Homo sapiens: one gene and its partners. The protein of the gene in region 2 interacts with the protein of the main gene of each other region in a pairwise test. Each region holds a gene or a part of one and is shown on either strand. Other genes may lie near its edges.

The links.
Region 1: the proteins of ARF4 (region 2) and APBA1 interact in a two-hybrid assay, tested with the Homo sapiens proteins (one study listed by BioGRID).
Region 3: the proteins of ARF4 (region 2) and RCHY1 interact in binary tests that used the Homo sapiens proteins (3 or more experiments, as listed by UniProt).

What each region holds. Positions count from the first base shown.
Region 1 is NC_000009.12:69,669,363-69,677,318, reverse strand, and holds the start of APBA1 (amyloid-beta A4 precursor protein-binding family A member 1), read left to right. Parts: upstream 1-4,947; 5' UTR 4,948-5,166; intron 5,167-7,956. UniProt on the Homo sapiens protein: Putative function in synaptic vesicle exocytosis by binding to Munc18-1, an essential component of the synaptic vesicle exocytotic machinery. May modulate processing of the amyloid-beta precursor protein (APP) and hence formation of APP-beta.
Region 2 is NC_000003.12:57,594,323-57,601,623, forward strand, and holds the start of ARF4 (ADP-ribosylation factor 4), read right to left. Parts: upstream 3,023-7,301; 5' UTR 2,819-3,022; coding exon 2,752-2,818; intron 1-2,751.
Region 3 is NC_000004.12:75,504,395-75,511,418, forward strand, and holds part of RCHY1 (RING finger and CHY zinc finger domain-containing protein 1), read right to left. Parts: intron 4,903-7,024; coding exon 4,783-4,902; intron 4,542-4,782; coding exon 4,426-4,541; intron 1-4,425. UniProt on the Homo sapiens protein: E3 ubiquitin-protein ligase that mediates ubiquitination of target proteins, including p53/TP53, TP73, HDAC1 and CDKN1B. Mediates ubiquitination and degradation of p53/TP53; preferentially acts on tetrameric p53/TP53.

The DNA.
Region 1 (7,956 bases), on a different chromosome or scaffold from region 2:
CTTTTTGTAGTCACCAGATCTTGCTCTATCCTCAATCAGCCATGTGGTTTGGGGAGGATTGACCCAGCTCCAGGACTGGGAGCTGATTGGTTTAAGTTAGTCAGTGTAACCCAAGCCCCTGGCCATGGAGTATGGTTCAGAGAATGGGATTACAACCATTTTTAAAAGTCAATATGTTCCCATGACATTATTTACTCAAAAACTTCATTTTCAGAGGTAGAATTACCATATGGGGCACCAGAATGTCTTCCAATGTATCAGATAAACACATAGTACAAAATTCTGGTTGGACTCATTAAAGGGCACAGTGGGAGAAAAAGAGAAGGAGCCTGACCTTGTTTGCAGAATAAAAAAGAAAAGAAGGGCATTATTTCTCTGGACAGATTTCATGCCCAGAGAAAAAGCTGGTGAAATAAGCATCTGTATATACAAGCAAATTTATTGAAGTTTATGATACATACATGTCATAATTGTGTATTTCTTTCATACACTTTAAATCCTGTGACCAAAAAGGCTATACAATATGTTAGGAATTATGCTGGATTATTAAATATTAGCAGAACTGAAATCCTCAAGAGAAACCAGATTACCGAAGGTTGTTCTATGCTTGTCTTACATACAACCTCAGCTCATAAACTCAAGGACTGATACAGAAAGAGGGTAATCACTAAAGAACTTGAAATCAAGGAAAAGTATCAACTTATGTCAGAAGAAGGATGTCTAATTTAAGCTATCCAGAACCATATCAAAAGCTGGAAGATATGGTCACACTCTTGCAGAGTTTGAATGGATGTAGTGAATCATGGAATCTTCAAGTCTTTGTTGATAAAAATAACCCTAAATGAATAAAAGTTTTTGAATCTCTGTCCTTTTACCAAGTGACCAACAGTGCTTGTGACGGTAACATATACAGATACTCCTTGACTTATGGTGGGGTTACATAAGTCAAAAATGCATTTAAGGCCAAGCACAGTGGCTCACGCCTGTAATCCCAGCACTTTGGGAGGCCAGGGCGGGTGGATCACTTGAAGTCAGGAGTTTGAGACCAGCCTGGCCAAAATGGTGAAACCCTGTCTCTACTAAAAATACAAAAATTAGCCGGGCATGGTGGTGGGCGCCTATAGTCCCAGCTACTAGGGAGGCTGAGGCAGGAGAATCGCTTGAACCCGGGAGGCAGAGGTTGCAGTGACCCAAGACTGCACCACTGTACTCCAGCCTGGGCAACAGAGTGAGGCACTGACAAAAAAAAAAATTAATACCCTGATAAGCCCAAAAGTAAGGTCAAAAACTTCTAAGTCGAACCATCATAAGACAGGAACCGTCTGTATTGGTATAGTGTAGGCTGATGGAGTTTGGGACCTCAGAGATTAAACTAAAGGAGATTATCTATGAGCCATTGGGAGACATACTTAAGTTTGCCAATAATATGAGGTTTTATACTGGCATGCACGGAGACTTTAGGTGCACATGCAGTGGTGGTTAAGGCTTTACTTTAAACCCAAGTCACTTGGCACAGTGTCTATACTATTGTTACCTGCTTCAATGGTTGGCAGGTTGCCAGTGTTTTATTTTTAGTGACATGGTCTTGCTCTATCACCCAGGCAGAAATGCTATGGCACAATTATAGCTTACTGCAGCCTCAACCTCCTGGATTAAAGCAATCCTCCCATCTCAGCCTCCCAAGTAGCTAGGACTGCAGGAATTCGCCACCATGCCCACTAATTTTTTTTTTTTTTTGAGAGACGGGGGTCTTACTATGTTGCCCAAGCTGGTCTTGAACTCCCCAGCAATCCTCCCACGTTGGCCTCCCAAAGTGCTGGGATTACAGGCATGAGCCACCATGCCTGGCTGCCAGTATTTTATATACTGCTTCCTGAAACACTTGAATAGCAGTTTCGACCCTGTTAACAGGAGAAGGTGGATTGGAGTGGTGGATTGGAGTGCCTTATAAGAGATCTACTAAAAAGAAAAACATCAATAAAGCAGGCACAGGAAATCTATAAATAGAATAGAACAAGACCAAAGGAGGGATTAAGACATGGATCTACATGCCATATGGATCCACTCATTTCCTACAATGATCTGAAAATTTGGCTTTGAGTTTCCTGCCAGCGAAGGCACAGAGTAACAAGAGCACTTAAGACAATGATTCATGCTATCCAGAAGAAATAGGAATATGTGTTTTTCATGGGGGTGGGGGAGGGAGGGAAATTTCCACATATGAACATTTGGTAAGTAATTAGTTTTGGAGGTCTCTAAGCTACCATTATAACTAACAATTATTACCTTTCTTTATATGGCACTGAATACTTTGCAGAGAAATTTCACATAACTTTCTTTACACAAAAATCCTGCGAGGTAAGATTCCAGGATATTATTAAAGCAATAATGTAACCCTTATTCATGCATCTAAGAACCTAGTCTAACTGGAAAGGCAACACAAAAAGTAGAAAATAAGCAGAAAGATCTCTGAGATAGCAAACCAAATGGCAATAAGTGTATGCACAGAAAAGAGCCTCTCACTCAGAACCTATATTCTCTTATTTAACCTGAAATTCTAACAGGGTTCATTTCCTTCCTAAAACTGCAGTGGATTAAAAGTAACAAAACAGAAACTATTACAGAGAAGCACTCTGAAAGCCTCCTAGATGCGTACACAGGAGAGCAGAGGCAAGAACTAAAAACAATCAAAAGAGCAGTTAGTGCAAAAACAGAAAACCCTAAACACTCACTAAGTAGGATAAGCTCAGACTCTCTCCGCCCTGGATCCTGACCCTCCACGAATCAGTTCCTCACAAACCACCTCAGCCATCTTTCAGGAACGGAAATGTGATCCTGCTTGCCTGCTCCCAACTCTTGGCAACCCTTCATTGACTTTCCAGGCTCATAAGACAAAATCATTATTTAAAAACGGTCCACAAAGTCTGCCTGCCTCTCCAGTCTCATCTCACTTCGGCCCCACCTGCTTGGGCCTTTTCACATTTCCTTCCCTTTACCTGGAAGTGTCTCAATGCTGCCTCTCCTGGGGGATCTGAAATGTCATTTCCTTAGAAAGCCTTACCTAGTCCCAGAGTCCACATTAGGTTTTCCCGTGCACCTTAGCGCCTTTGCAGTTGAGAATTTATCACAGTTGCACTTAGTCTGATTGTTTTATTTGTTTGTTTGTTTTTTGAGACACCAAGGCTGGAGTGCAGTAGCGCGATCTCGGCTCACTGCAACCTCCGCCTCCCGGTTCAAGCATTCTCGTGCCTCAGCTTCCCGAGTAGCTAGGATTACAGGCGTGCACCAACACGCCCGGCTAATTTTTGTGTTTTTAGTAGAGACAGGGTTTCGCCATGTTGACCAGGCTGATCTCAAACTTTTGGCCTAAAGTGATCTGCTGGACTCAGCCTCCCAAAGTGCTGGGATTACAGGCGTGAGCCACCGCGCCTGGCCAGTCTGATAGTTGAATACCTATTTCCTTCAGCGTACTGTGAGCTCTGGTGGAAAAGGACCATGTCTGGCTCGTACATATGCCAAATAAGTATTCACCGGAAAAAATATGAGTAATGTCACAGGACAAGCAGACATCTTCCTAGTATATAATTTTAAATTTTACTAAAATCTTTTTGAGAAGGTAGCTATTGTTTTATTAAAGCAAAAAAAAATTACAAAGTACAATGCAAAATTCATATGAATTTTAAAGCTAAAACAAGACTTTCAGAATGCTTTAGGCTACACCCCCAGACTTCTCTAGAGACGTGCTTAAAATAATATGGAAACACGGTGTGGTAAAAGATCCATTTCCCAAGGGATCTGGATAACCAGCGCTTATCTTCATTTTACTGGAGAATACATGTGCGGAGAGGGCTTTGCAAACTACAAGGCTTTGTGCATTATAACATTATTATGGAAAAATCTGTGTTTCTAAGAGGGGGAATGATTTAGCTATTGCATTGCCAATTACAGGTGGGGCTGGCGCCAGAGCCCAGGCCTCCCGGGGCCTGTCTAGCCCACAGCTTTTCATTAATGCACAGCACTTGCCACCTGGTCCCTGCCGCAAAGGGTGGCCTCTCGAGTTAGGAGCCATATCTAGGGCGGATGGCCTGTGCTAGGCTCAAAGACACTTAAGTTCCGATCAACCAGAACTGAGGAGCGGGTAGGAAAACCAAGCCGAGCCTTCCTCGGCTTCACAATCCGCAGGCTCTCCGCTGTCCCCGGCGGGACTCGGCAGTTCCCCTGGAGGGCTGCAGCCCGGCTGTCTTCGCTCAGGCCCAAGCCCGCGCGGCTCTCCCCCTGGCGGAGAACTCGCAGGACTGCGACGCATTCCGGAGACGCCGTCAATCTCCGAATTTGAAGCGCAGGCGATATCTAAGGGGCCTGGGAAGCGGGAAAGCTCGGGAGTCACTCCGGAGAGAACACCCTGCAGGAGTCGACGCGGCTGCCTGGCTTCGTGGTCCTGCAGCGTGGCCCGTTGCTTCGCGCAGAGGTTGGCCACAGCTGCTGGCTAGGAAACTGGGGACCACCTGGGTTGCCACCGAGGAGGGTGGAGGCCCCCGTCAGTCCCCTCGGGGATGCAGCTGCATTTTCCCCTCCTTGCGTCCGGCCGGGAGCCAGAGGATGGGGCTGTGGAACCCATTCCGAAAGGCAGGGCGGGCCCTTCGGAACCCGGACGCGAGGGAAGGCGAGAGGCGCGGGTGTGCCGCACGCCCACCGGCGCCGGGGCAGGGGCGCTGCAGCCGGCGGCCCACGGAGGACATCAGCGGTGCCGCCGCCGCCGCCGCGGGCTCGCGGGCCGCGCGCGCACGCGAGTGGGCGAGGGAGGCAGGGGCGCTACTAGCAGGCGGCGTGCGCGCGCGCGCTCCCCCGCGCCCTCCCTCGCAGGCCCGCCCGGCCCCAGCGCGCGTCACGAGGGGCCAGCGAGCTAGCTGGAGGGCGGGAGGGAGGGTGGGGAAAGGGGGTGGGGCCGCGAGACCGGAGGGGTCCGAGCAGCGGCTGCGGAGCCGGAGCTGGGCGAGGGCGGCTGCGGTCCCGGCGGCGGCGGCGGCGGCGGCAGCTGCGGCGGGAGAAGATGGTGGCGCTGGAGGCAGCAGCGGCTGGAGCGGAGCTTTATTCCCAGGCTTGGCACCAGCGCTGTCACTAGCGCCGCCTGCTCCCGCGGGCCCGCGGACCCAGCTGTCAGGCAAGGTACCACAGCCAGGGAGGGGTGGGTGAGAAGGGGTGCCCGGCGCTGATGCGGCCCCCGACGGAGCCCGGGTCCTCGCCAAAGGGCGCCCCCGGACGCGAGAGGGGCTGCCTGGAACAATAGTGCGGAGGAGCGGAGGCAGCAGGCGACATCCAGGAGGCAGTGCCTGGAACCATCAGCTAGCGAGGCGGGGGAAGGCGGCGTTGCGAGCGAGACGCCTGGGGTCCGGTGCCCGCTGAGATGCCGGGCTTCGGGCGCAGCAGGCGGGCCTGATGACAGTCATGGCAGGAGTGAGTGTGTGAGAGTGTGTGTGTAAAAGGTACAGCAGAGGGGATGGGGTGGCGGACGGAGGTGTTGGGGGGTGACATTTCCAGGAATCCCCGCTAGGACCCCCTCATCTCTCGGCTGACTCTCCTGGAGAAAGAATGTGATGATGGAAACGGTGAGGTGGGCAGGATGCACTTGGTGTGTGAAGTGTGGAGGGAGGCAGTGGGATAGGGGCCGGTTTGTAAAATCCTGTATATGTGTGTGTACGCGTGTGGTTGCATCCACGTTCCCCAAACTGCGCCCCAAATCCAGAGATCTGCCGCTGCCCTTACTTGATGTCACCGGCTAAGACTGTGGGACAGTGTTTGTTATTTTGACCCTGCAACTCTGAGCACAGTGTCTGTTCTGCTCCTGCGTGTGGATGGCCCAGTGTAGGGATTCTCGCTTCCCCTTCCTCTGGCCTCATGACATGGGGATGTGGAAGTGAGCATGTTGCTTTGAGGCACATGGCAGGGAAATAGGATAACCGTTACACATTCTGGGCTTGCTAATGTACCTGGTTTTGAAGGGGCCTTCCATCCTGTGATACTACTTCTCTCCTTAGCACCTGTTCCATAAGGGTCTTGTACTCCCTGACTGTGCAGTTTCTATTGTTTTTCTCTTGTCTGACCAGAAGGAGAAGGATGTTGAATGATCAGATTCCTCTTCCTGTCCCCACAACTTTCAATGCTAGCTAGACCTTCTCCTTCCACATTTAAGCACTGAAAACCTTATGGCTAGAGGATGGATGGTCTTTGTGTTGGTTCTTTTAGAATGAACTCTGGAGGTGTATACGTATAGAGAGATGCGGTGGGGCGGGGGGCGGTCTTTTAAAAAGAAGAAAAATATCACACGGAGAAATGTTTGGTGCCCACTTGGTCAGCATCACACAGCCAGGGCGTTTTCCTCAGGAAACAGGATACTTTATTTCTACTGCTGGTGACATCCACTCTCCCAGCTGTCACAATAGCTAGGTGGTGCCGTGTATCATTTGGAAACTGAAATCTCCTGAGACCCACAGCGATGGGGTCCCAGGTCAGTAAAGTCCCTGCTTTCCTACCTGATAGAGCCCACTAGTAGGGAATTTGGAAAAATGTCAGGCTGGCAACAACTCACCCAGTGGGAACAAGGACACAGAAATGCATCCAGAGTCTATGGCTGTTTAATTGTCTCTGCGTGGTAAAGATAGGTGTGTGTAGGTAGGGTTGGGTAGAGGTAGGCAGGGAGATGGCATATTCATGTGTATCCAGGGCAGTGTGATTCCCCCTCACCTATGTTTCTCCTGCGGTATTCATAGGAATGAGTGCACTTTACACTTAATATCTCGACACTTCTTTATTAAAATGTTGTATGACTAGCTTAATCTGCTTAGGACATGTTTTAGTCATAACACCTTAAATTCTACTGCATTGTCGGAATCCAAACTGGCTGCCCGGTTCTCTTCGAAAAGCCCGTAGCAGTCATGGCTACACAAGTAAATATACAACATGTTGGCACCAGAGATTTATTTTTCTTTTTTAAAATTTTTGTTTTGCTTTCTTTTATGGGCAAAGATTGCATGATATCGTTGTGAAAATAATAAAACTAGGGCTATCCACATATGCTTTTTTTTCTTCCCATGTATCTTATTTAATGATATATAGACAAGGTGCTCTTGAAGCTGTCTATGTAAAGTAAATTTCCCCATGTTCTTCAAGTCAAGCCTTCTAAGATTTTAATGTGAGGTTGGTTGTTGGCTGTCATCCAAGATTTAAGGATAGATTTATAAAAATGAATTTTGAATCTTAGTTCTTTACTCTCTTATTTGTTATGCCAAATGTCTTTCTGAGAAAAGTACTTAGGGAATTTAAAAGCCATTCTAAGAGATTTTGGTTTAAAAAAAAGTCATCATCCTTTATATTTGCAAGTAAGACCAGGGATGTAAATGTCTCACAAGAAAGTTTAATAATATGAGGAATTACCAGGTAAATACCCTGTTTAGAGAAAGAGGAATTACACAGCAGCAAAATCGATGACTCAGGAATCAGTTCTTTTCTAATGTAAATGTGATCATTTTTATTTTTATTTGTCTTTTTGAGACAGGATCTTCCTCTGTCGCCCAGGCTGGAGTGCAGTAGTGTGATCATAGCTCACTGCAGCCTCAAACTCCTAGCTCAAGCAATCCTCCTGCCTCAGCCTCCTGAGTAGCTGGGACAATAGGCACATGGCACCACACCCAGATATTTGTTTATTTTTTTCAGAGATAGAGTCTCGCTATGCTGCCCAGGCTGATAGTTTTAAAAATGCAATATCTGGCTTTTCTAAAGATCGGACTGGTATAAGGTTAATGAGACAGCTCTAATAAATGGTGGTACCTTTTGCTGTGGCCTGCAGCAAGCCATTTTTTGTGCATGGATGCCTTTCCTTCACTTAAAGTAGCATCAGTGCTTTTCTCTTCCATTATTGAGCCTCTTAAGGTTTTTTGTTGTTGTTGTTTTGTTTTGTTT
Region 2 (7,301 bases):
TGTGATCCTCCCAACCTGGCCTCCCAAAGTGCTGGGATAATAGGCGTGAGCCACCACACCTGGCCAGAAGCTATTGCTTCCTAACTCGAGCAGTATGGGCAATATCATCACTTGCATAACTTACCCTTATAACTAGTACATAATTTCTGTCAATCAATAGTTCAGATGATGTTAAATTTGATACACTGTGTTGGTTTTTTAATTACAGTTAACTACAAGCTAACTTCCAATATCTTTTAAAGTTACTTGAACTTTTGAAGAACAGCAGGTGTACGAATTAAATTTAAAACTTCTCCATAGTAGTTTGGCAAACCTGACACATCAGCTAACTGCTATCTCCTTTATACTTTAAAATGGTAAAGTCTGAATAAAACACTGACTCAGGAGGGCATGAATCTTATCTAAGCTTTATAAAGAAAAACGAAGCACACTAATGTAAAACATTAATAATTCCAACAGTTGAATGGGGCAGACACTTTAAAAGTGATCTATTATTTTTGCTGTCAGTCACTCATAAAGCCAGACAGAAAAATGTAAGAATTATCAAACTTCCAAACCACCTTTTTCCCTGTTCATGCACATATCTCCCTCGTACGTTGATACTTCCTTTGATGAGTTACCATAAATGTCGATCTTGTGACTGAAGTGTTTTTTAGTCAAGGAAAACTGATTATCCCAAAATTAAAGTGCAAAACGATAGCATGCCTGAGTAATAAAACATTAAAAACAAGTAACTCCTAAATCCTCCACACAAATGCAGAAACTTAAATATTTTTTCTCTCCCATTTTCTTCGAATCATTTTTTGGGGTGGAGGGAAATGCCTCCCAATATAGTAAATATATGAAAATGCTGGTAGCATACTTCTATATTCCTTGCCCCTCTGATACTTTCATCAATCACAAAAGACTAAGGAATTGAAAAATAGCAATTCATTTACAATAAATCTTAAGTAAAAAGACCAATATACTATGTGTTCTGGAACATAACCATATATTGTTAAATCTCTTTAACGAACAGACTGGAAATTCATTTATCACAGTCCGAAGTCCTCCCATTAACTTCCGATCCTTTTTCAGACTGCCAACTTTCAGCCACTGAAAACTTAAATATGCTTGCCCTCCTAAAATAATTCTGTCCTCTTGACAAAGGAAATCTAAGAAACTTTGAAAGAAAAAATACTTTATGAATGACTCATAAACAATTGATTCACAAAGTGTAAGTACGCTAAGAGGAAAATAAACATGAGCCAATGTATATACTGTTACTCTTTATATACCTTGAAATATTACAGAAGCTTGTGTTTGCAAGTTTTGATGGTAGTACAGCTCTAAAATAAAACCTCCGGCCGGGCGCGGTGGCTCACGCCTGTAATCCCAGCACTCTGGGAAGCCTGGGTGGGTGGATCACCTGAGGTGAGGAGTTCGAGACCAGACTGGCCAACGTGGTGAAACCCCCGTCTCTACTAATAATACAAAAAATTAGCCAGGCGTGGTGTTGCATGCCTGTAATCCCAGCTACTCGGGAGGCTGAGGCAGGAGAATCTCTTGAACCCGGGAGGTGGAGGTTGCAGTGAGCCGAGATTGCGCCACTGCACTCCAGCCTGGGTGACAAGAGCAAAACTCCGTCTGCAAAAAAAAAAAAGGAAGAGAAAAATAAAACCTCCTCCGGTAGAAAACAAGCTAATGAACCAACAAGTTTCAACGTTCAAAGTTAGAGGGGCTTCTTTCAGCGTTATTCTAGTCCATGGAGCTCAGCTGTGATGTAGACTGCTTACAGTAACCGGGAGCGGTTGCTTACTTCAGCCAACTGACAGCCCTTCTCCCTCAGCTGAGCAAAAACACGCCCCCTAAAAAGTAGTTTTTAAAAAGTCAACTTTCTAAAAAGAAATTTTAAAAAAATTGTAGTTACTATTTAACAAGACTACCATAAAATTCAGCGTCATGATGTTCAGTTACTTGAAAATTTATCAGGTATTTTTTAAAAATTCGTTTCTAAAATTTTTTTGCATTAGACCTTAGACCGCCTAAAAATAAGCTTAAAAACCTAGGAGAATAAACCAAACACATTTAAAGTTTTTGAAAATAGTCAAAGAAATAGAAGATAAGCTCAGTTTTCGGAGAATGAGATTAACAAGGAGCGAAAAACTTGAAACGGAATCCAGCGCAAGGCCAAGTTTAGCAAAGTGAGCGCTGAAGGACTCCAGACTCTTCGGAAACCTTGGGTGCTCCCTGGCCACCGCAACTTCCTGCCCCGGGCGGCTCCAGGCTCCGGGTGGCCGCTGGCTTACATACCAATGGAGTATGCAGGGACTGTACACGAAACGCAGAAGGGGAGGGAAAAGGCTGGAGTTGCTCTGCCTCCCTCCTGACCGCTGTCCACACCCGGGCAAGAAGGTATGCAGATCGCACCCCCAGAAAGGGCCTCGCCAAGTGTTTGCTTCCCAGAGTTGGCTTTCCCCACATCTCTGCCCAATGTTGTCCAGCTTTCAATAAGATCAAGGAGAAAAAGCCGAGTCCAGAAAGAAATCTTGCCCGAAGCCCTGTCCCTGTCTCGTCTGGCGACAGATCGGGGGCGGGGGGGATCGCTCACCCTCCGCTCCATTGTTCCCCCTTAAGAATTCCTTCCGACCCCCGACCCGGCGCCCCTCCCCCACCACAGCGGGCGGAGGAAAAAAACAGGCCCAGAGGCCACCCCAATTGTGGAGACCCTGCCTTTCCCAGGTCCCGCCTGACTCGCAGCCCCTCACTCACCCATCAAAATGCGCATCTGCTTCTTGCCAAATAGTCGGGAGAAGAGGGAGGAGATAGTGAGGCCCATGGCGGTAGTGGCACTTGTGATGGGCAGAAGCAGAAGGGGTTTGGGGCGACCCCGTGCTTTCTCCTTTCAAGCTCCCAGGCAAACTAAACGAGAGGGAAGAGAAAGAGCGGAGGAAGAAAGAGGGAGGCAGAAACGTCTCAGTGGCCCCTGTGCCGATGAAGATCCGGCACAGGAATAAGCCGGTAGAGGACCTGCTAGGCGACTGGCGCGGCAGCTCCGGCTCTAGCCTTTAGGCTCTGGCTGTGCCACGTCACGCGGCGGCCGCGGCGACTCCAGCAGCGGCCCGGCCCCTCCAACGCGGACAGAATCGCGTCACCGCCGCCCCATCCCCCTGCGCTTCCGGTGCGCCCGAGCCACTGCGCTTGCGCCTGCAGGGGATTGGCCAGTTTCGCTGACGAGCATCTCTCGACGGCGCCACCGCCCGGACGTGGCCCCAGGAGCCGGGAGAGGCCGGCTGAGGCACATGCGTACTGGGAGACGGACAAAGTCCCACAATACCTCGCTTCGTCACTGCCAAATCAGACTCAGGGTGAGACGCTTCCGCCCGGATGAAGGTATTGTCGGGGTGATAGTCCTTGCTTCCGGAAAGGCGAGCTGAGCATTATGGGTTAGGTGAGGAACCTCGCCCTCTTCTATTACGGTACGCGCGATGGGTATTCCCTGATGCCATGAACTTACACGTTTCACACACGGGACCAGACGCTTGCTTTAGTTGACGCATGAAGACCGGTCCGGTCTTTTGCGGAGAAAAGTGGTTAAAAGCTGACTTGTGGGCCGAGAAACTGTGGCACCCTAATGAGCTAGGGCTAGACGCTTCGACCACCACGCCAAGTGATTCTGAAGATCTCTAATTCTGTCAAGGCGAGAGCGCTCCAACACGTGTTCATCGGCTGTTGCTTTTTAAAGAGAAGGCAAGGAGGAAGTCTTGCTTTTCTTGTACTTTTTTTCCTAGAAGCAGCATTAAAGATTTACTCCTTATGTTGAGGAAGCGGAAAGCCTCTTCACTTTAAAAGTGTTTATGATCGGGCCTGGCGCGGTGACTCACCGCGCCCGGCCTGCTACACCTTTTAAAATTCACAGCAATGATAAATGTATTAGACTCATTGCCAGGATAAAGATTTAATCTATTTTTCTAGTAGTGCCGTCCTATGTGGTTCTGTAGTTGCTTATTCCAACTGGTATATTTCCATAGGATGGGGTTGAATAAGAAAAACTTGCAAACTTTCAGAAACAGTAAGTTATTTTTATATTTTTGAAGGCTTGCTGAGTAACGCTTCTCTTGGTAGCACTACCTTATCTACCCTTCAGAGACTGTTATTTCTTAGGAGTGGCCCTGGGCAATTAAAAGCAAAAACTTCTGGCCGGGCATAGTGGCTCATGCCTGTAATCCCAGCACTTTGGGAGGCCGAGGCGGGCAGATTACGAGGTCAGGAGATCGAGACCATCCTGGCTAACACGGTGAAACCCAGTCTCTACTAAAAATAGAATAAATTAACCGGGCGTGGTGGCGGGTGCCTATACTCCCAGCTACTCCGGAGGCTGAGGCAGAAGAATGGCGTGAACCCGGGAGGCGGAGGTTGCAGTGAGCGGAGATCGCGCCCCTGCACTCCAGCCTGGGCGACAGAGCGAGACTGTCTTAAAAAAACAAACAACAACAACAAAAAAACCCCAAAAACTTCTTTACTCAGAAGTACCCTCCTTTGCATTGGAGATACATGTAAAGAGTTGCTTAGCAGTTGAATAACTCAAAATTGCATTTTGGAAGCTTGCTAAGTGACAAGACCTTCTTGTATCCTTTTGTGAACCCCCAAAATATGAGACAGGCCTCAGTTAATTTAGAAAGTTAATTTTGCCAAAGTTGAGGACACGCGTCCATGACATAGCCTCAGGAGGTCTTGTAGACATGTGCCCAAGGTGATCAGAGCACGGTTTGGTTTTATACATTCTAGGGAGAAATGAGACATCAATCAATATATGTAAGATGAACATTGGTTCATTCTGGAAAGACTGGACAACTCAAAGCAAAGGCAGGAAGACTCTGAGTGGGGAGGGAGCTTCCAGGGCATAGATAGATAAGAGACAAATGGTTGCATTCCTTTGAGTTTCTGATTAGCCTCTCCAAAGGAGGCAGTCAGATATGCGTTTATCTCAGTGAGCAGAGGGGTGACTTTTTAAAGAATGGGAGGCAGGTTGGCCCTAAGCAGTTCCCAGCTTGACTTTTCTCTTTAGCTTAGTGAGGTGGAGGCCCCAAGATTTATTTTCCTTTCACACTTTAGGCCTTATGTCTGTTTTTAGTTTTATATAGTAGAATTCCTTAAAACAATCTTCAACTAATTCTTAGGGTCTTCTTAAATTCAAAAGACAAACCGTATGAGCCCTCCTCCCTGTAACTTATTCCAAATCTTAATCCATGTTTTCTGTTTAGTTATGCAAAATAAATCGAAAGAATTCTGTTCTCCATCTCTAGCCTCCAAAACCTGAACCAAAACAAAAGTTGTCAAAACAGATTTTTCAGTAAGAATACACTACACATCAAGTGGCTAATGTAAATTACAAAACAGGATGTTAATGGCAGACTGTAATATCTCTATTGTACAGATAAAAATAATCAGGGTCAGAGAGATTAAATATTCTGCCCAAGGTCACACAGCTAAAAGCAGTGGAACAGCTATAAGAACCCATTTCTTCTGGTATTAACTGGTATTTACACTCTTTTTTTTTTTTTTTTTTTAATAAATAAGTGGATTCTGGCTATGTTGCCCAGGCCTGTCTGGAACTCCTGGGCCCAAGCAATCCTTCCACCTCAGCCTCCAAAGTGTTGGGATTACAGGTGTGAGCCAGTGCACCCAGCCATTAACACTCTTAACCACTACACTATACTACCTTCTTACATTTATTTATTTATTTATTTGAGACAGGGTCTCACTTTGTCACCCAAGCTGAAGTACAGTGGCATCATCTCGGCTTACTCAACCTCCTGGGATCAAGTGATCCTCCCACCTCAGCCCCCAAAGTAGCTGGGACTACAGGTACACCACCACATTGGCTAAGTAGTGTTATTTTTTGTAGAGACAGGGTTTTGCTATGTTGCCAAGGCTGGTCTCAAACTCCTGAGCTCAACCAATCTGTCTGCCTTGGCCTCCCAAAGTACTGGGATTATGGGCCTGAGCCACTGTTCCCGGCCAAATTCTTTTCTTTTCTCTTTTCTTTTTCTTTCTTTCCTTTCTTTTCTTTCTTTCTCTTTCTTTTCTTTCCTTCATCCTTCCCTCCCCTTCCTTTCCTTTCCCTTTTCCCCTCCCTTCCCCCTTCTGTTCCCTTTTCCCTTCCCTTTTCCCTCCTCTCCCTTCCCCTCCCCTCCCTTTTTCCTCCTGCCTCAGCCTCCCAAGTAGCTGGGACCACAGACATATTCCACCATGCCCAGCTATTTTATGTATTTTTGGTAGAGTTGGCGTTTTGTAGAGACCAGCATGTTGCCCAAGCTGGTATCCAGCTGCTGAGCTCAGGCGATCTACTCGCCTTGGCCTCCCAAAGTGTTGGTAGTAGAGGTGTGAGCCACCGTGCCCAGACCCCAAATTTATTTTTATTTTATTTTATTTTTCTAGGTCAGGCATGGTGGCTCACACCTGTAATCCCAGCATGTTGGGAGGCCAAGATGGGAGACTCACTTGAGCCCAGAAGTTCCAGACCAGCCTTGGCAATATAGTGAGATGCCATTTCTATTTTAAAAAATATTTTAAAAATAAAATATTTTTCTATTCACCTTTCATCAATACAAACCCAGAAGAGAATCTTTCTTATTTTTAAAAATGAGGAAATTGAGCCCTACAAGAAAAATTGCTATAGTTTATTGATCACTTGCTAAGCCATGTACTTCATTTAATCATCGCTTTTGAACACAGTGTTGTATAAAGTTGCCCAGGCTCAAAAGCATGTACTCATAACATACTACACTAGGTAGTATGTTTTCCTCATCTCTGGTTATTTTATTTTATTTTTTTTTGCTCTGTCACCTAGGCTGGAGTGCAGTGGGGCGATCTTGGCTCACTGTAGCCTCTGCCTCCTGGGTTCCAGCGATTCTCCTGTATCAGCCTCCGGGGTAGCTGGAATTACAGGCACATGCCACTGCGCCCGGCTAATTTTTGTATTTTTAGCAGAGAGGGGGTTTCACCATGTTGGCCAGGCTGGTCTCGAACTCCTGACCTAGGTGGTCCACCCACCTCGGCCTCCCAAAATGCTGGGATTACAGGTGTGAGCCACCGCGCCCAGCCTCTGACTATTTTTCTTAGTGAGATCTTTTTAGTCACAAATATGTATATGGAATTTACATTCCAGTCCCTTGGGTTTAATAATGTACAGACAGCAGACCCCCTGTATCTTCAGGTTTCAAACCCACAGATTCAGCCAATAGCAGATGTGGAACCTGCAGATGCAGAATGGCAACTGTAAGGGCCTTGAGCATCTGCAGATTTTGGTATCACGGGGA
Region 3 (7,024 bases), on a different chromosome or scaffold from region 2:
ATGAAGAAGGATGAAGACCTTTATGATGATCCATTTCCACTTAATGAACAGTTAACATATTTTCTCCTTATGATTGTCCTAATATTTTTCTCTAGTTTATCCTAAGAATATAGTATATAATACATATAACATACAAAATATGTATTAATTGGCTATTTGTGTTATTGATAAGACTTCCAGTCAGTAGCAGGCTATTAGTAGTTAAGTTGTGGGGAGTTGAAAGTTATACTCAGATTTTCAACTGAGCTGGCACTTGGTGCCCTTAACCCCCAACATTGTTCAAGGGTCAAAAGCAGTTACAGAGGACACTGACATATTTGAGCACACATTATCTTCAACTTGGAATACATGGAATTAAAATTTGGGTTTGCAGTGTTCAAATTCTTAGTAAAATTTCCAGTGAAGTTAATTTTCACTATCCTTTATTCTTTCGTCTGCACATTATTCACAAAAGGGCTTTAAAATATTTTTTAAAGTAAAAAGAATCCATTATACTTAAATGGTAAATGGCGATGACTAATTTTTCTAGTATATTCAGGGTTATCATAATACTGAAAACACTGCCAAAGATATACTGCCTACACATTACTGTGCACCTACTGTATATACGGCAGCGGTCACCAACCTTTCTGGCACCAGGGACTGGTTTCATGGAAGACAATTTTTCCATGGACCGAGGTTGGGGGATGGTTTCGGGATGAAACTGTTCCACCTCAGATAATCAGGTATTAGATTCTCATAAGGAGTACACAACCTAGATCCCTTGAATGCACAGTTCACAATAGGGTTTGTGCTCCTATGAGAATCTAATGCTACTACTGATGTGACAGGAGGCAGAGCTCAGACAGTAATGGTCGATCACCCACCACTCACCCTGCACTGGGCGCAGCTCAGTTCCTAACAGGCCATGCACCAGAATCCGCACCCCAAGCACTGGGGACCCTGATATAAGGCACTCCCAGGTATAGAAATTTAAAATATGAAAATACCATGATCTCATGAAGTTTAATATTTACCATGTAGCATGAGATGTGTACTTTGCAGTAACAATAACTTGAATGTCAATAAATCAACCAATAAAAGAGGGTATGATTTTCTTGGTTGTGTGTGGTAATTAGAAGCTATGTGTAGATATGATATACAAAATAACACTACAAAAGTGAAAATGAATTAGAGTTAATCAAATAGGATGAATCTTAGAAACAGAGCTCAGTAAAAAAACAAAAAGAAAAAAAGGCCATATATATGATTTTTAAAATAAGCAAAATGAAACATATATTGTAACTTCTACTTCCACAATGACGAAATAGCTTCTATAGGACTAAAACTCCTACTGAGAACTAGAAAAACTCAATTTAAAGAAAACAAACAAGCTGTTTAAAAGTAGTAAAGAGCAACTGAGTGCTTGAAGGGCAAAGATCTCAGAGAGAAAGCAAATATACTGAGGCAAAGTCAATAGTCTCTACTTCTTTCTTCCTTGGGAGATTTTTAGACCCTAAACTGTGCTGTGACAAGCTAAGAAACTAAACAGAGAGCAACAGGTAAGAGCCTAAGAAACTAAGTAAACCCTCTGAAAGTACTCCTATGCTAGGGGGCCAAAATTTGGAGTCCAGATTCCACCACGAAAGAGATGGGCCTGGTAAACAACCCTAGCTTTAAGTCAAGATCTCCAAGGGACTATGTCCTAGGAGCATAAGAATAAAGGGAGGAAAAAAAAAAAATAGAACAGGACATACAAAAAAAAAAAAAACAAAAATTAGTCTCTAATCATATCAATGCTAAATTGGATTAAGGTTATCCATCCCTACATTAACTGCCTTCTGAAAGAAAATTAAATTCTCTCTGAAAAAAAAATAGCATCGAGAGCTTAATAAATTTTTACATATTATGTCCAACAATCAACTAAAAAAAAAAATCAAGCATGTCAAAAGGCAGAACCAAACACCAAGGGAGAAAAAACAGAAAACAAAATTTACCCATAGATAATCAAGATATTGGAGTTATTAGGCACAGTCCTTTAAATCATCTGTGATCAATACATTCAAAGAAAAAAAAGGTAAAGAATTTCACCTGACAACTAGAAAATAACAAGAATGAAGATAAAATATAAATTTTATAACTTAAATAAATAGATAACTTGGTAGGCTTAAAAGCAGATTCAATGCAGCAGAAGAGAGACCTGGAAGTTAATCTGTGGAAAGTATCCAATTTAAGCATAAAGAAAATCAAAGTAGGAGAAATACAGGAAAAAAAAAAAGAGACATGGGATGTAGTAAAAAGATCTATGGGATGGAGTCTCAGAAGAGGTGGGAAAACGGTACAGAAACATTATCTGAAGAGAAACTGGCCAAAAATATTTCAAAATTGACAGAAGACATCAAGCCACAGATTCAACAAATGCTACAAACCCCAAGCCAGATAAATATTACACTCAATCAAACCTGGACACACGGAAAAAATACTAACAACCAATGACTTAAAAAACAGCGAGAGGAGGATAAAAGACATTTTAACTTCAAAGAAGCAATAATAATCCTGAGAAATGATATTTTTAAACAGAAACCATGGAATCAGAATATCTTTAAAGTGTTGGGAGGTCAGGGGAACCAATACCTGTAAACTTAGAATTCTACACCCAGCAAAAATATTCAAAAATGGAGGCAAAAAAAAGACATTTTTCAGAGACAAAAAAAACTGAGAGAATGTATCATCAGCAGGACCTCACTAAAAGAAACACTAAAGACAATTCTTTAAGCAGAAGAAAAGTAACTCCAAAGATAATGCTGGAGACCTACAGGAAAGAAGGGCAATAGAAACGGTAAATATATAACAACAATAGCATATAAAGACTCTTAGTGTTTAAGGTCCTAATATTGTCCAAGAAGTGATAAACATATTATTCTAGTAAGCCAATGATGTATGTTATAATTTCTAGGATAACCACTAAGAAAATAATTGAAAAATGTATAACTAACAAGCCTATAGAGAATAAAAGCAAATAGGAAAGCAACAGATTAATCCAAAGAAGACAAGAAAGGAGAGGAAAAAAGACAAATACTAAGGCAATAGAAACTACCAAAACTGTAGATTGAAACACGAACATATCCTAACTACCTTAATAAAAAACGAACTATATACTCCAATTAAAAGACAGTTTTATCAAACTGGATTGAAAAATTAAAATTCAACTATATGCTGTTTTACAAGACACATGACTTAAATGTAAGTATACAAAAATGTCTAAATGGAAAAGGATATACATGCAAAAACTCATCGAAAGAAAGCTGATATAGATACAGTAGAGCCTAGGGCAGGAAACATTACTAAAGATAAAAAGACACATTATATAATAATAAATGGGTCAATCATACAGGAAAATGTAATAATTTTAAGTATGTGACCGCTGAAAGACATGGCCTTAAAACATACAAAACAAAACACAAAAGAGCATATACTATATGATTCCATTCATTAAAAACTTCCAAAAGTCAGCATACTGGTTACCTTTGGGGAAGTGTATTAATTTGGAGGGGGCACACAGGAAGCTATGAAGGTGCTATGAATGTTGTGTTTCTTGATCTGGGTAGTGGTTACAAAGGCATGTTCATTTGTTAAAATTCATAAAATCATTTGCTTATAATTTCTGTTATCTTTTGGTAGGTTGGTTATCCTTCCTTAAAAACAAACTATATTTTAAAAAAACAAAAAAAACAAAAAAAAAGCAAGAAAGTGATTTAAAATATTCAAGACAGTGATTACCTCCAGCAGGGACAAGAAGAAAGGACTGAACACGGAACACCTTGGGCTTTGACAGTATTGGTAACATTCCTTTCCTAAACTCGGTGGCTTATTCACTGTACTGTACTTTAGACACACTTTACATACATGCTTTAATATACATCTAAAATACTCGAGATTTTTAAGAAAGAAAATAATTCCTTATACACCGACATGTCAACAGTAGCTTGTCTGTGGTTAGGCTCTGGTTATTTTATTTTTATTATTTCTACTTTTCTGTTTTTTCCAATTTTTATAAAATCACCTGTATTTCTTGATAATTTTTTAAATACTAATTTTTACAAAGGAAAAATTTATCCCAATTCTCTACCTCAGTTGCCCATAAAACACTTTATATAAAACATATTTTATAATCCAAAGGTAAAATTCTAAATAGTTATACAATAATTGATGGGTAAATTAAATTATTAACAAATTATGAATAAACTTTTTAGAATGGATATGTTCTATAGCTTGATTGTGCTGATAGTAAAAGAGATACCGGTATTTATCAAAACTCACTTAATTGGACACTTAAAATGAATGTATCTTATCAGATGTAAATTACACCTTAATAAAGTTGATTTTAAAAACTATTATTGCATATACATTAGAAGCAATTAGATAAGAACACTTTACATACAGTACCTACAAATTCCACAGTTTTCACAGTGATACTGCTTCTTATCTTTGTCAAACAAATGGCATATATCGCAATAATATTCTCCAAACAATGTGCTACATTCTTCACAAGTCTGTTGGGCCTAAAAAAGAAACATAATTAAAAACTGCAATAAACTAAACATTTTGAGTTACCATTTGAATATCTAGAACTTATGTTCAACTATATGCAGTTTATTTTTATAAGTTTTGAAACACCTAAACCAAAGATATTGCTTATTCTAGAAGTTAAAGAAATCTTATTTATGATACTTTTGATTAAATTTTTTCAAACCACCTTAATACAGCTTTTAAAAAGAAAATAGAAATGTCATAAAATCTTACATGTTGAATTTTTTCACAGTTTATGCACTGCACTTCCTTCACTTTAAAGCGATCTAGTTGATGATCTTCATTGTTATCATGACACAAGCGGCAAGTATAAAGCTTGTCACAGCAAGGTGCCTAACACCCACGGAGAAAAAAGAGATATAGTAAGAAGCAAAAGAAACTAAGTGTGCAATACAAAAAGAAAATTTCTTCCTCCTCCTCCTGGATGGAACTGAAAGATTACAACCAATAGATCAGTTGCTAAACTGATCCTAAACATAACATTTCACTAGTTTCTTGGCATATTTTATGTTAATTCTTCCCTTCAACATCACTACGTCTGTATGAAGTTGAACACAACTTTAAAACAAAAGAATTATGAAGGAAATCCCTAGATTGAAACACTAATCCCACAACACCTGATATGCTTTGGCTGTGTTCCCACCCAAATCTCAACTTGAAATGTATCTCCCAGAATTCCCACGTGTTGTGGGAGGGACTTAGAAGGAGGTAACTGAATCATGGGGGCCAGACTCTCCCGTGCCATTCTCGTGATAATGAATAAAATCTCATGAGATCTGATGGGTTTATCAGGAGTTTCCACTTTTGCTTCTTCCTCATTTTCTATTGCCACCACCATGTAAGAAGTGCCTTTTGTCTCCCGCCATGATTCTCAGGCCTCCCTAGCCATGTGGAACTGTAAGTCCAATTAAACCTCTTTTTCTTCCCAGTCTTGGGTATGTCTTTATCAGCAGTGTGAAAACAGACTAATATAACACCCCAATTTCATTCTGAGCCTAAACAGCAAACAGGCAACCTCTTCTTAGACATTTCCAGATAAATTCATTTACATTAAAAATAATAAAGATTATATTCTTATTTTACTAGCTTTTATTAATCATCAACCTCATATCTAATATTGCACAAAATGCAACAAATGTAAGAGACAGCCCTTGTTTTCAAACACGGCAAAGACTGCCAGTTGTCCACCAAAATCTATCCTCTCCTTCCTGGGCACAATTGTTCAGCTATATCAGACAGATGGCCACATGCCCTAAAACATGACAAAATGATACAACAGAAAAATCTCATCCCTGGAGTGACCATGTGGAGCAAAGCCTCATCACCAACCTGCATCACTCGCCTTGGAATTGTTAAATGGAAAGAAATAAAACCTTTACTCTTTAATCTACATCACTGTTGGGTTTTTTCATTACAGCAACTTTACCATTACAAGTATATCAAGAGATTTCCAGGCCAGTGACTTTCCAATACACTGTGACCTTGCAGATCCACTCATTTCTGAAGGCTTCCTATGCCTTGACTTACCATAACGTAGTTCATTCCTTAAAGATTTTAACACTTAACTGGCTTCCTTTTTCTGCAACTCTCAGTTCCTTAACTTTGTCATTTCCAATAACCTTGTCCTCCAACCCACTATTCTCATAGTTATACCGCAGAACAGTAGTTCTCAAATGGTTTGGTCTCAGGATCCCTTCACACTTTTTAAAATTACTGAGAATCCCAAAGAGCTTTGGTTTATGTGGATTTTATCTATTGACATATACCACATCATAAATTAAAAAGAATAGGTTTTTAAAATATTACTTCTTTTTAAAAGTAACAAACTCATTACTTGTTAACATAAATAACATGTTTTAATGAAAAATAACTATATTTTTCCCCCCAAACAGCTGAATTCTTCTATCTGCTTATGCATTCAAACAGTTGTGGCTGAAGTACAAAAAGAAACTCTGGCCTCACACAAATATGTACACTGGAAAAGAAAGGAGTATTTTAATAGCCTTTTTGGAGAATTATGGATATCATTCTCTGATATTACACTAGAACAACAACTCTTAAAGGGTAGTTGCAACATGAAATCTGAAATCGTATCAAGGAATATGATTGATATGATGCCTCTTTTCTTCCTTGGTTACATTAAAATCTATTGCTCTATCTTGCACTTCAAATGGATGTTTTACTCATGCATTGGTCATCTGGAGAATACCAGTTCAGTGAGTTATTTACATCTTCTAAATGTTCACACATTTAACATGCAATATCAAAAAATCATATTCATTAAAAGTCTTTAGGTATTGAAGAAAATCTCACCAAAAAAAGTCTTTTAAAAAGCTTCCAACCTCACAAAAGCTAGTAAAAGTTTTCCAAAATTCTAATTTTTGTGTGAAAGCTTGAATTTTATCACTGGCAACAAATACTGTCATTTTCATTTGTAGTGAGTCTCACTTTTCTC